3 separate regions of the Homo sapiens genome follow, and all the other regions are reported to be linked to region 2. Evidence: microRNA targets listed by miRTarBase, many of them from high-throughput screens and not tested one by one. Region 2 holds a microRNA gene; each other region holds the end of a gene's coding sequence.

Region 1 (3,253 bases), not on the chromosome of region 2:
TATTTTCATAGGGTAATTTACAATCTTAGCAACTTGTGATAGAGTACAGAGCAGCAGCCTTGGAGTCAGTCTACTTGGATAGCCTTCCATCTTCATGAATCCTTGGTTTCTTATCCTCAGAATGGGGCTAGTGTGCCATAGGCCAGTAGATTGTTTGGGATTAAGCAAGATTAAGAAATCACAGTGTCTGATCCTTTTTTAAGAAAATGTTTATGGGTTAGATTGAGAAAAGTGTATGTTTATAGAAAACAATAAAGACTAAACTGAATTAGAGTAGGCATAATTCCACCACCTCTGAGACAACCATTCTTCTTGGTGCATTTTCTTCTCATCATTTTCCTCATTTTTTTCCTCAAATAAGTTACCCTCAGTCTGGCTGATCTTGAAAATATGGTGAACTTTTATTATTTTTTAAATGTGCTAATTATAATGAATTTCTTTTCAATCAATAGGAGGATGAAATTTTGAACAGATCACCAAGAAACAGAAAGCCACGAAGAGAGTGAAACAATCTTAAGAGCTTGATCTGTGATTTCTTCTCCCTCCTCCCCTGCAAGAGTGGTCCTAGGAGAGGACCTGGCACACCTTAGGTTGACATTCAGAAAACTTCAAGACATCACCATCAGCAGGCTCCAGTTGAACACTAGTCTGTGTAACTTTAAACATCTAGCAGTAAATACTTGCAGTTGTGATATAAAGGACCCTGTTTCTGTAGAAAAGAAAACATTTAACATAATGGTTGTGAAATGTAACATGAAGCAAACTAACTTTTTTTTTTTTAACATCTTTGTTTTTAAAATAGAATGATAGAACTTTGCCAGTCTTTAAGATCTTGGCTTAATTTAATGTATTAATCTGTTTGTGCAAACATAATACCACCATTTAAAAATGTTAGGGAGATGAGTTGCAGTTTTTATAATAGATTTTTTTTAAAGTTTGGTATTGTAAAACATTCACACCTCTGTCCCTCAAAATTGATAATTACGTTTAAAGTGCAGTCATTTGTGGTTAGAATCTTGTTTTGTTTGCTTCCATTATTGAGTTCCTCCTAAGGAAATTGAGGAGAGGGACTGAATAGAAGCCCAAATTCATATAAAAGTTGCGTTTAAGTTGTATTAAAAATAGATATATAAGAAAAAATTCTTTCACTTGATGTTTGTTAGACCAGAAAGTGTGTGTGTTCTGTAGCTCAGTTCCCAGACAGCTTTTTAGGTAGTGGAGGAGGTGGCTTCATGTGGCACTTGGGCATTTATATTCCACTTGGGAGGGTCAGGCTGTGGCCTTCTGGAGCAGGTGGCTTGTTAAGGAATGCTAGCAGGGCATGGCACGTGAGCTCCGGAATAGATGTCTTCATCACTTCTTCCACTGTGTGTTGACACTGTTTTCCTTACCTATTTCCTCAGATCCCCAGCTTTCTCCTCTGCTATGCATTTTCTTCACAGTGCAGCTTGCAGTCCGTTGCTGAAAATGATTATAAGCCCTGCATAATGTTAAGCTTTATTGTGATTACGTGTATGTTTCTTCTTTCTTTTAAGCAGACCCATACCTTTCCAGGGTCAAAGTACAGAATAGAATACATTGATACAAAGTACAGAAAAATACTTTGATTTTTATCCATTTCTTTTACTCTGTGTAAAGACTTGAGAAGTCTAATTCACAGGCAAACCAATACAGAATTGACTGCAGTTGAACAGACTAGAAGTATTTGTGGGAGGAGTGACATGAAGCATGAGTTATCTGATTTTTTTTGTAGCTGCTATATATTTTAAGCCTTCATTTGCAATTCATGTAACAGTTGTGTCATAAATTACACAATAAAGCAGTCCTGTTCAAATTTTTTTTTAACGTGGCTTGTAGAATTTTTAAAAAAGTGATCTTAGGTTTGTTTTTTCATGCGGGATGCAGATGGGTGCTATCAGAGCCTCTCCCACACCACTATAGTGTAATAATGTTATTATTACTCTACACTGAAACGTATTCAGAGTTAGATATTATTTTAGCTTCAGTTGTTCTTTAGAGGCTTTCAAATGTACCGATGATACTGTTTCTTGCACTGAATATATAAACACTCCACAGTGTTTATATTGGGAAGATATTGGGAAGGAAATATATTTGTAAAAGATGAAGGCTGTATCTATTTTTTTTTCTTTTTAAAGTTTGTTCACTTAAATTCTTTTGAGGATGGGATGTATTTTTCTTGCTGTTCAGTGCTTTTTCCTTTTCATCTGTTGTTCTGTGGTCACAGTGACCTTAGCTACATAGCAGACTTTCCCAAATGTATTGATTACAAATAAACAGTTGTTACTTAGCAAGACCTGAAAATATGTCTGCAGGTTTCTCCTTGAAGCAAATGTGTGGGATCATTGCATTTCCAGAAATCTGCCTCCTTCACCCTCCGTTGACAGTATATGTCATGCCTCACTTTCTTCTAGCTGAGCTTTAAATCATTAGAGCTTAAATTGTCAGATCGTTCATTGCCTTTCCAGGGTTATTTAGTAAAGTTTGTTGAAAACAAAAACGCCTTTTCTTGGTTCTTTTTTCAGTTATTTTGAAGGTCCAGCATCCTGATTAAATGTCTGACACATTAATGAATGACCAGCAGCAGCTTTCAGCTCTTAAAAAGACACTTATATTTTGATTTTACATGCTGGTTACCTGTTCCATTGTTGTCAAATGCCCACTCTCCATCAGATGTGTTCCTCCATTTTCTTATCCACAAAGTACTCCTCACTTTTCAATTTGTCATGTTACTAAATGGTGTTACATTAAAGCCCTGTGTTAAGTGTCTGCTTTTGACTGAATTTCTTCATAGTAACCTTCAGTGTGTGTGTGTGACTATGTTCAATTAGTGGGTTGATCTTCGTATAATTGGCCACTATGTGAGAGTTCACTACTAGGCAGAAACTATTATGGACAGTGAAATAATGACTTTTATCTCACCACGTGAGTTTGATGCAGTCTTTTCTGTCTAGCCCTTGCCTCTTCCTGCCCATGTGATTGCGGTGCAGTAGTTTCTGTTGTATAATAGTGTGGACAGCAGCTCAGAAAAGGAGGGAATGCTACTGATAATTTGTAGATAATATTCTTTAAGACTTAGGGGAACCATTGAACTTTGAAATTTTTATTAGAAAATTATTTGTTCAGAATCAGACTCCATTATTTTACATATACTTAAATACTTTAGGGGTATTTTTGAAAGTTAGCCCAGTTTTTTATGTGCTATTAAATTTTTAGATTACATACTAAAGAAAAG
Region 2 (3,263 bases):
AGAAACAGTTATGGTTCTTACCTCTGAAGGAGAACTGTGTTTAACTGTGGCTTTTAGATTTAACTTACTAAATTTGTATTTGCTGCAAAAGTAAACCACACTCAAGAGTAAAGCAAAATTCATCAGCAAGGCTATAATTTTGCAGAGAGAAATAAGAAGGGTGTATAATATTTAAATCGGAACTCAGCATCCCAGCAAAGAGCTTCTTAATCAAAACAAAAGAGAAAAAATCATTAAATACAGTAACCCACTGAGATTCACATGAAGGTATGTCCCACAACTTTCATAAATCCCGAATTTATGATACCACTATAATATACTATTACTCCACAAGAAGTAGATGTGAATAACACCCAAGGATTACTGTGTATGATACAGAAAACCAAAGAGAAGAAAAGCTGCATGGAGAGCAGCTGCTCTGACTGTGTGTGCAGTGCCTCATTCACCAACACACAATTCAAATTCAAGCCTCAGCAAAATAACTTGTCGTAAGCCATGATCCTCTATAAGGTCATCTTCAAATAGACGAAATAGTGACATTTAATTCATAAAGACAAGGTTCTACTCTCTTGCTGAGCAAGTAATCCAATCAACTGTGGTTTAGTTTCATCAACTTTGGAGAAAAGGCAATTTTCTTTCAAGATTTGACACCCTTCATACCCTCTGCCTATAATTCCAGATGGTAGGTGTAGGTGGTAGAAATGTTAGGTTGAGCAGAATGATAGTACCTAAAGAAGAATGAATAGTACCAGGAAATGCATGACTCATGGCATTCTAATTTTCTTGAAGTTCTTTTGTACATTTGCATCAAGATTTTCCACAAAATTCAATCCTGACTTTAATTGTAAATTAAAGAGTCCTTTATTGAATTTCTATTATTGCAGAGCAGTTACGCCACATGAGGTATAATAGAAGCTTATAATGTCATTGAGAGGCCAGGAAAAAACACATGTGCAGAGAGCAATATACCTGTGGCTGTCAGCCTGTAACATAGGTAACCTGTATCTGCAGTCCTAACTTGATTCTAAATCTCATAGTGCCTTCTCTGTTTTTCCCAAGGAGAAGGCACCATGGGATTTAGAACCAAGCTAGGGCTAGAGACATATGTTACAGGCTGTGAAAGTTCTACCAAAGTTCCTACTTTAAAGAATGAGCAAAAAGAGGCGGGGCATGGTGGCTCACACCTGCAATCTCAGCACTCTGGGAGGCCGAGGTGGGTGGATCACCTGAGATCAGGAGTTCAAGACCAGCCTGGCCAACATGGTGAAACCCCATCTCTACTAAAATTACAAAACTTAGCCAGGCATGGTGGAGGATGCCTGTAATCCTACCTATTCAGGAGGCTGAGGAAGGAGAATTGCTTGAACCCAGGAGGCGGAGGTTGCAGTGAGCCGAGATCGTACCACTGCACTCTAGCCTGGGTAACACAGTGAGACTCCATCTCAAAAAACATATAAAAATAAATACAGATAAAAAGAATGGGCAAAAAGAGATACTGGCTAAAGTCTTAAGCAATAAATTCATCAAAGGCAAAAAGACAGGTAAGTGTGTGTGGCTTTAAGGAACCATTAACTGAACCATTTTATTGGAGCAAAGGGCTCATTTAAAGGCATGAGTGAAAATGACAGATGGAGTAATGGTCATATTCCTTTCATTATTACACTTTAGACAACAAACCTTTGTGCTCCATTGCACTTAAATACCAGGAAAACACTTACCAAAGAACAATATTAACACATTTATGCAACCATATGATCTTTGCATACAGATCACAGCAATCAAGCTTCCAACCTTTTGTTGCATGCCTACTATGTGCCAGGAATTGTCCTAGCACTTCCCTTCCAATTCCCTATCCTATTTAATCGCTTCACATTCTACCACTCACACAAATTGTAGATTTATTTTACTCTCAGCCCACATAAAATACTCCAACCTAACAATTTTTAATTCTATCGGCATGATATTCTTTCATCCATCTAATGTTTCTACCTTAGATCAGAACCATTTCATATTTCAATTCCTACATTACCCCCTAGACTCCAGGCTTATAGTTTTATAAAATAAGATTGTAAAATAAAAACCCATCTTCTCCCTTCCTCCAGAAAAGGAGAGAAGTAAGTGTGTAATAGCTAACATTTATAATGATTTTACTATGCTGAGTGCTTTCTACATAAAGCTGTTTCATTTAATGGCTCAGCAACACTGTTGAAAAAGGAAGAACCTGGAGTATGGAAAGACTGAACAACTCCCACCAGGTTCATGTAATCAGTAATTGGTGGAGCTGGAATTTTTAATCAGGTCCAACTCAGAACCTAAATCTTTTAAGATCACAAGCTTAGTCATAATATTCAATTCAGTGCCTTTTCTTTGCCTATAAAATAAACCACATTTTTTGAAGTAGTGGCAATGTAACTCTTGAATTAGATTGTGTGGGTTCAGATTTCAAATGTATCATTTGCCACCTGTGCAAATTTGGACATCATAATTAATATCCCTAATCATGAATTTATCATCTATAAAATGGATAATATTAGTTTCTTTACACACCATTGTTATAAGGTTAGGAGATAATTCATGTAAAATGTATACAGGGCCTAATATAGTAAGTGCTTAACAAGAACTGATGAAGGAATAATGGTTAGGTACATAAATGAATGAGTGAATGAATTTCCTTTACATACATCTCTTTATATAAATATATCACTTATAGTAACAAGTGTAGGTAAGGACACCTACTCTATCCCTCATTGTTAGGGTTAAGAACTGCTTGCATTATTTTTTAGGAAAAGCCATTAAATGCCTTATACTAAAGAGAAAATAATGGGAGGCATTATCGTAATCATTATCATCATGATTTCATCAAAACTGATGAAAACCTATTACATGTAAGATATCAAGGTTAAAAAAGAGACATATGGCAAAGATGCCATCTTAAAACCTACATAGTAATGCAGTATGTGTAGATTGATCAGTGAATAATTAGATTGTACAACTGCAGTGGAACAAAAGTTCTACCATTCCTGTTGCTCATACATAGAAATGCACATGAGTCACCTACAAGCTTCCTGATTTGCTTTTGCTTTCTCCCCAGCTATTACCCAAACCTAAAAGTATGATTTTTACAAGTTAATAATTTTCTTTTAAGAGGTGTTGTCAAAGTTTCCTCTCAATCCTAATTTAAGGTAAGTATAAAATTATAATATGAAAATCCAAGAATTCACGTTTTAAAAGGAAAAAAGATAAACCAGTAGCAAAGAGCTGGT
Region 3 (3,263 bases), not on the chromosome of region 2:
TTTTCCTCCACAGTGAGGACCTCTGTGACTGCCTTACATGCATGGATCCGTCACCTCATTTGCTATTGGGTCCTTTAGATCCATCATCTCTTGCTATTCCAGCTGCCCTTTGCTGGATATGGGAGGTGGGATATTGTCCTTTCTATTATAGATGAGAAAACTAAGTCTCCATCCTTGAATTCTCATGGGTAATCTCAACTGTATGGTTTTGAAACAAGTTTTTCTTTTCTTTCCTAGAAGAACACAAACAGAACGGGCAGGATAAGGACTCTTCCATAACAAGACTATGAAGCCACTTCCACATCAATTCCAGGCCACCTAATCCCATCCGAGGAGGCCATGGGGAGGAGGAGGGAGGGGAGTGGGCTGGGGGGAGAGTCTGTTTTCTGTGCACTCCCTGTGACTCTGGCCTTTCTTCTTCTTTTTTTAATTGACCAATTTTTAGTTAAAAAGGCAAAAGAAGGTGAATTTGAGATTTACAGAAAACAGTTCCAGTGTTTGGTTTCCGCTGTCTTTCCTTTCATTTGCCATGTTTTTACATTCTTCCAAATTTGGGGTCACTCCCCTAGCTCCTGATGCTGCTACTGTACCATCCTTTTGCTCCAGCCATGAGAGCAGACATTGCAGAATGTTGGTTCCAGGTTGGCATGCTCTGAAGCTCTTGAACTGTAGCACAGGCAGAGCCCTTTTTCTTCCTGTCATCTCCACCCGATTCCTTCCATCCCTACGTCTACCACTCTCTGGGTCCTCACTGGTCTTCAAAGGACCTGGCTCTCATAGGATCCCCTCAGGATTGTGTGCAGGGAGAGGGGGCTTTGCTGGGGAGGAGCTGGGAGTGGAGAGTTGGAGGGTGGGTGGGGTTCCCTCATCCAGTTTCCACAGCCCACCATGGCTGGAGCCAAATGCTAGAAGCGAGATTGAGAACAGTGGCCGTTTAGTGATGTGGTTTACCTAATACCACTGTCCAGCTGTGCAGCTCAGAAAGGATAAACCAGTCAGGGACAGGGGCCAGAACAGGTTTGGGAAGGTGGCAGCAAGCAGAGCATGGTGGGTAGGAGATGATCCCTAAAAAAACTGGAGACTGTGGTGGTCTGAGCTGGTCAGGAATCTGCAGAATCCCTTCCAGGAATCAGTGTGCCAGTGCCCACAGCAGGGTGAGCTAGGAGGGAGAAATCCCAGGAAAAAGGTCGTGAGAACCCAGAAAGCCACTCCATGAGGAGGCACGGTGACCACAGCTGCTAAAGGTTCTTAGGCTGCCTTCCTGGGCTAGGAAGAGCCCCCCAGGGAGAGCTTCCACAAAAGGGTATGTGTCAAACCTTTTGTCAGAATAAATAATAGCATTTCCCACCCACCCCCATGCCCTGGGCCACAGGGACTTGGTGGGATCAGCACACCCATGGATCAGCTTTTGCTGTCTTAGAGACAGCCATCCCCATGAAGGAATGGTAAGGACAGCCACTGCTCAGTGAAGAACAGCCATTTGGAAGAGCCACGCTGGAGCCCTGCAGCCATAGAACTATTCACACTGGAGTTTTAAAAGAAACAGCAATACCATAAGCTCTAGTAGGGAATCATAATCAGGAAAGGAATTCACAACATAAAATAGGTGTTCTGTGCTATTAATCATGTAACTTTGTATATGATGTATAGCAAAGATACTGGGAGGTTTTGTTTCATCCTTAAATCAGAAATGAATGCTAGTTTCATAGCTGGGCAGAACCCTCATCCCCACCCCAAAGTTTTCCTTTTCTTTCCCGTTCCCCCAACCCAAAGATCAGACTACTGTTAAGTTTCACCACACAATTGGAATTGCAAAGACGGGAGGCAAATGGAGTGATTTTCATCAATGGAATTGCACTGACAGTGAGTGTTTCTTATAGGATTACTAAATTTTTTAATATAAAATGATTTGTTTAAAAATCAGGAGTTGATATTAAGTACCAGGACATTAGTTCGGATGATTTCATTTTTATTTCTACAGTGTTAAAAGTGCACTTATATGCTGGTTTATTTACGTCTTGGGAAAAGAGACTGCAAATTGAAGGGATGATTGTTACTTTTTCTTTTTTTAAAAAAAAAAGGTTAAGGAGATTTTAAGACTTATAAATGTTTAAGAAATTATAAACAAGGTTAGACCCTTTGAAAAAAAGTTTAGAAGATATTCTTAAAGTAAATTTTTATAGTGTTAATTTTGTAATAATTTATGTTTTACTATATTACAGAGCTAACTGACCAGAATAGTTTCAGAAACAATATGAAACTTAGGAAAGTTTAAGCAATGTTTATATTTTTAAAATGTTCTTTGAATTATGTTTTTATTGTACATTTCTTCAGACTGAAAAGTATGTACATATCTTTGTTATTTTTGCACAATTTTGTCTTGTTCGGTTTCAGAGGTCTGTTGTTTTTTATAATTTATTTTGAGTTGTAAAACTTGCAGGAGTAAAAACAAAAAACAAAATCTCCACAACAAAATAACCCTCTGATTTATAAACTCTTATAGTCAAAGAGGGAAAACAAAGGTTGAGAGATTAAGTGGCTGCTTCTGAGAAATAATGTCTCAAGGACTAAAGGAGCAATTCAATAGGTTTAGACATTGTAGCTCTCTACATCTTGAATTGGAAGCTGGAATAAAGAGCCCCCACCCCCCCCCCCACCCTCATCGAATGCTGCTTACTTTGTCAAAAGACTGGCTATGACCAAGGTGAGGATATTTCTGGAAAACTGGGCAAAAAGGGAAAGCCCACAGTATTCTTCCTTGGCAGTCAACCACAGGTTTACTTTACAATGATGTATTAAAAACTTGCAGCTTGAAAAATGGAATGCAAATAAAAGGTTCTCTTTGGGTTTGTCTTAATGGAGTTAAACTGGAGCAGCCTATAAAACATTTTTAGGGTGATGTCCTCTGGGTCCTTCTGTTCTGCACACCCACTCAGTCTTCTCTCCCAGCCCCTTGACTGCACACACCCCTCTTTGCCTGAAGATCTCCTGACTTGTCGCCAGCCATAGAGGCTCGAAAGCTCTGGTTGTGAAGCATAACGCAATGCATAGACCTGTCAGCCATAAAAAAAAAAAAAAAAAAAAAAAAGCGACTTGGATAACTTGTATGCCTTCTTTTGTATCAATGTACCAATTGTAAATAATGCTGATCAACCTTTGTAGAGAATAGTTTATACAGCATATTCTATTATTGCTGATTCTCAGTGAACTCTTGTTTTAAAAAAGGAAAAAAAGAAATTTTCTATTTACACCTTATATTTTGT

What was found. The annotated mature microRNA hsa-miR-605-3p reads AGAAGGCACUAUGAGAUUUAGA and lies in region 2 at 1,024-1,045, opposite strand. An mRNA with a match to its seed (bases 2 to 7 or 8) in the 3' UTR can be bound and repressed. Matches are read on the target gene's strand: a 7mer-m8 pairs with bases 2 to 8, a 7mer-A1 pairs with bases 2 to 7 and ends in A, and an 8mer does both.
Region 1: miRTarBase lists CANX as a target of hsa-miR-605-3p. Seed matches in the 3' UTR shown: 7mer-A1 at 1,770-1,776.
Region 3: miRTarBase lists ATXN7L1 as a target of hsa-miR-605-3p. Seed matches in the 3' UTR shown: 7mer-m8 at 1,255-1,261 and 7mer-m8 at 3,108-3,114.

Annotation. Positions count from the first base shown.
Region 1 is chr5:179,728,139-179,731,391 of GRCh38, forward strand. CANX (calnexin) reads left to right here. Exons shown (of 15, transcript NM_001746.4): 15 at 453-3,253. The coding sequence ends at 506. Among named protein-coding and RNA genes, the nearest start is that of MAML1, 3.1 kb to the right of the region's middle.
Region 2 is chr10:51,297,405-51,300,667 of GRCh38, reverse strand. MIR605 (microRNA 605) reads right to left here and starts at 1,095; the gene lies at 1,013-1,095. All of the region lies in intron 2 of PRKG1 (protein kinase cGMP-dependent 1), which reads right to left.
Region 3 is chr7:105,604,868-105,608,130 of GRCh38, reverse strand. ATXN7L1 (ataxin 7 like 1) reads left to right here. Exons shown (of 12, transcript NM_020725.2): 12 at 241-3,263. The coding sequence ends at 279. Among named protein-coding and RNA genes, the nearest start is that of EFCAB10, 25 kb to the right of the region's middle.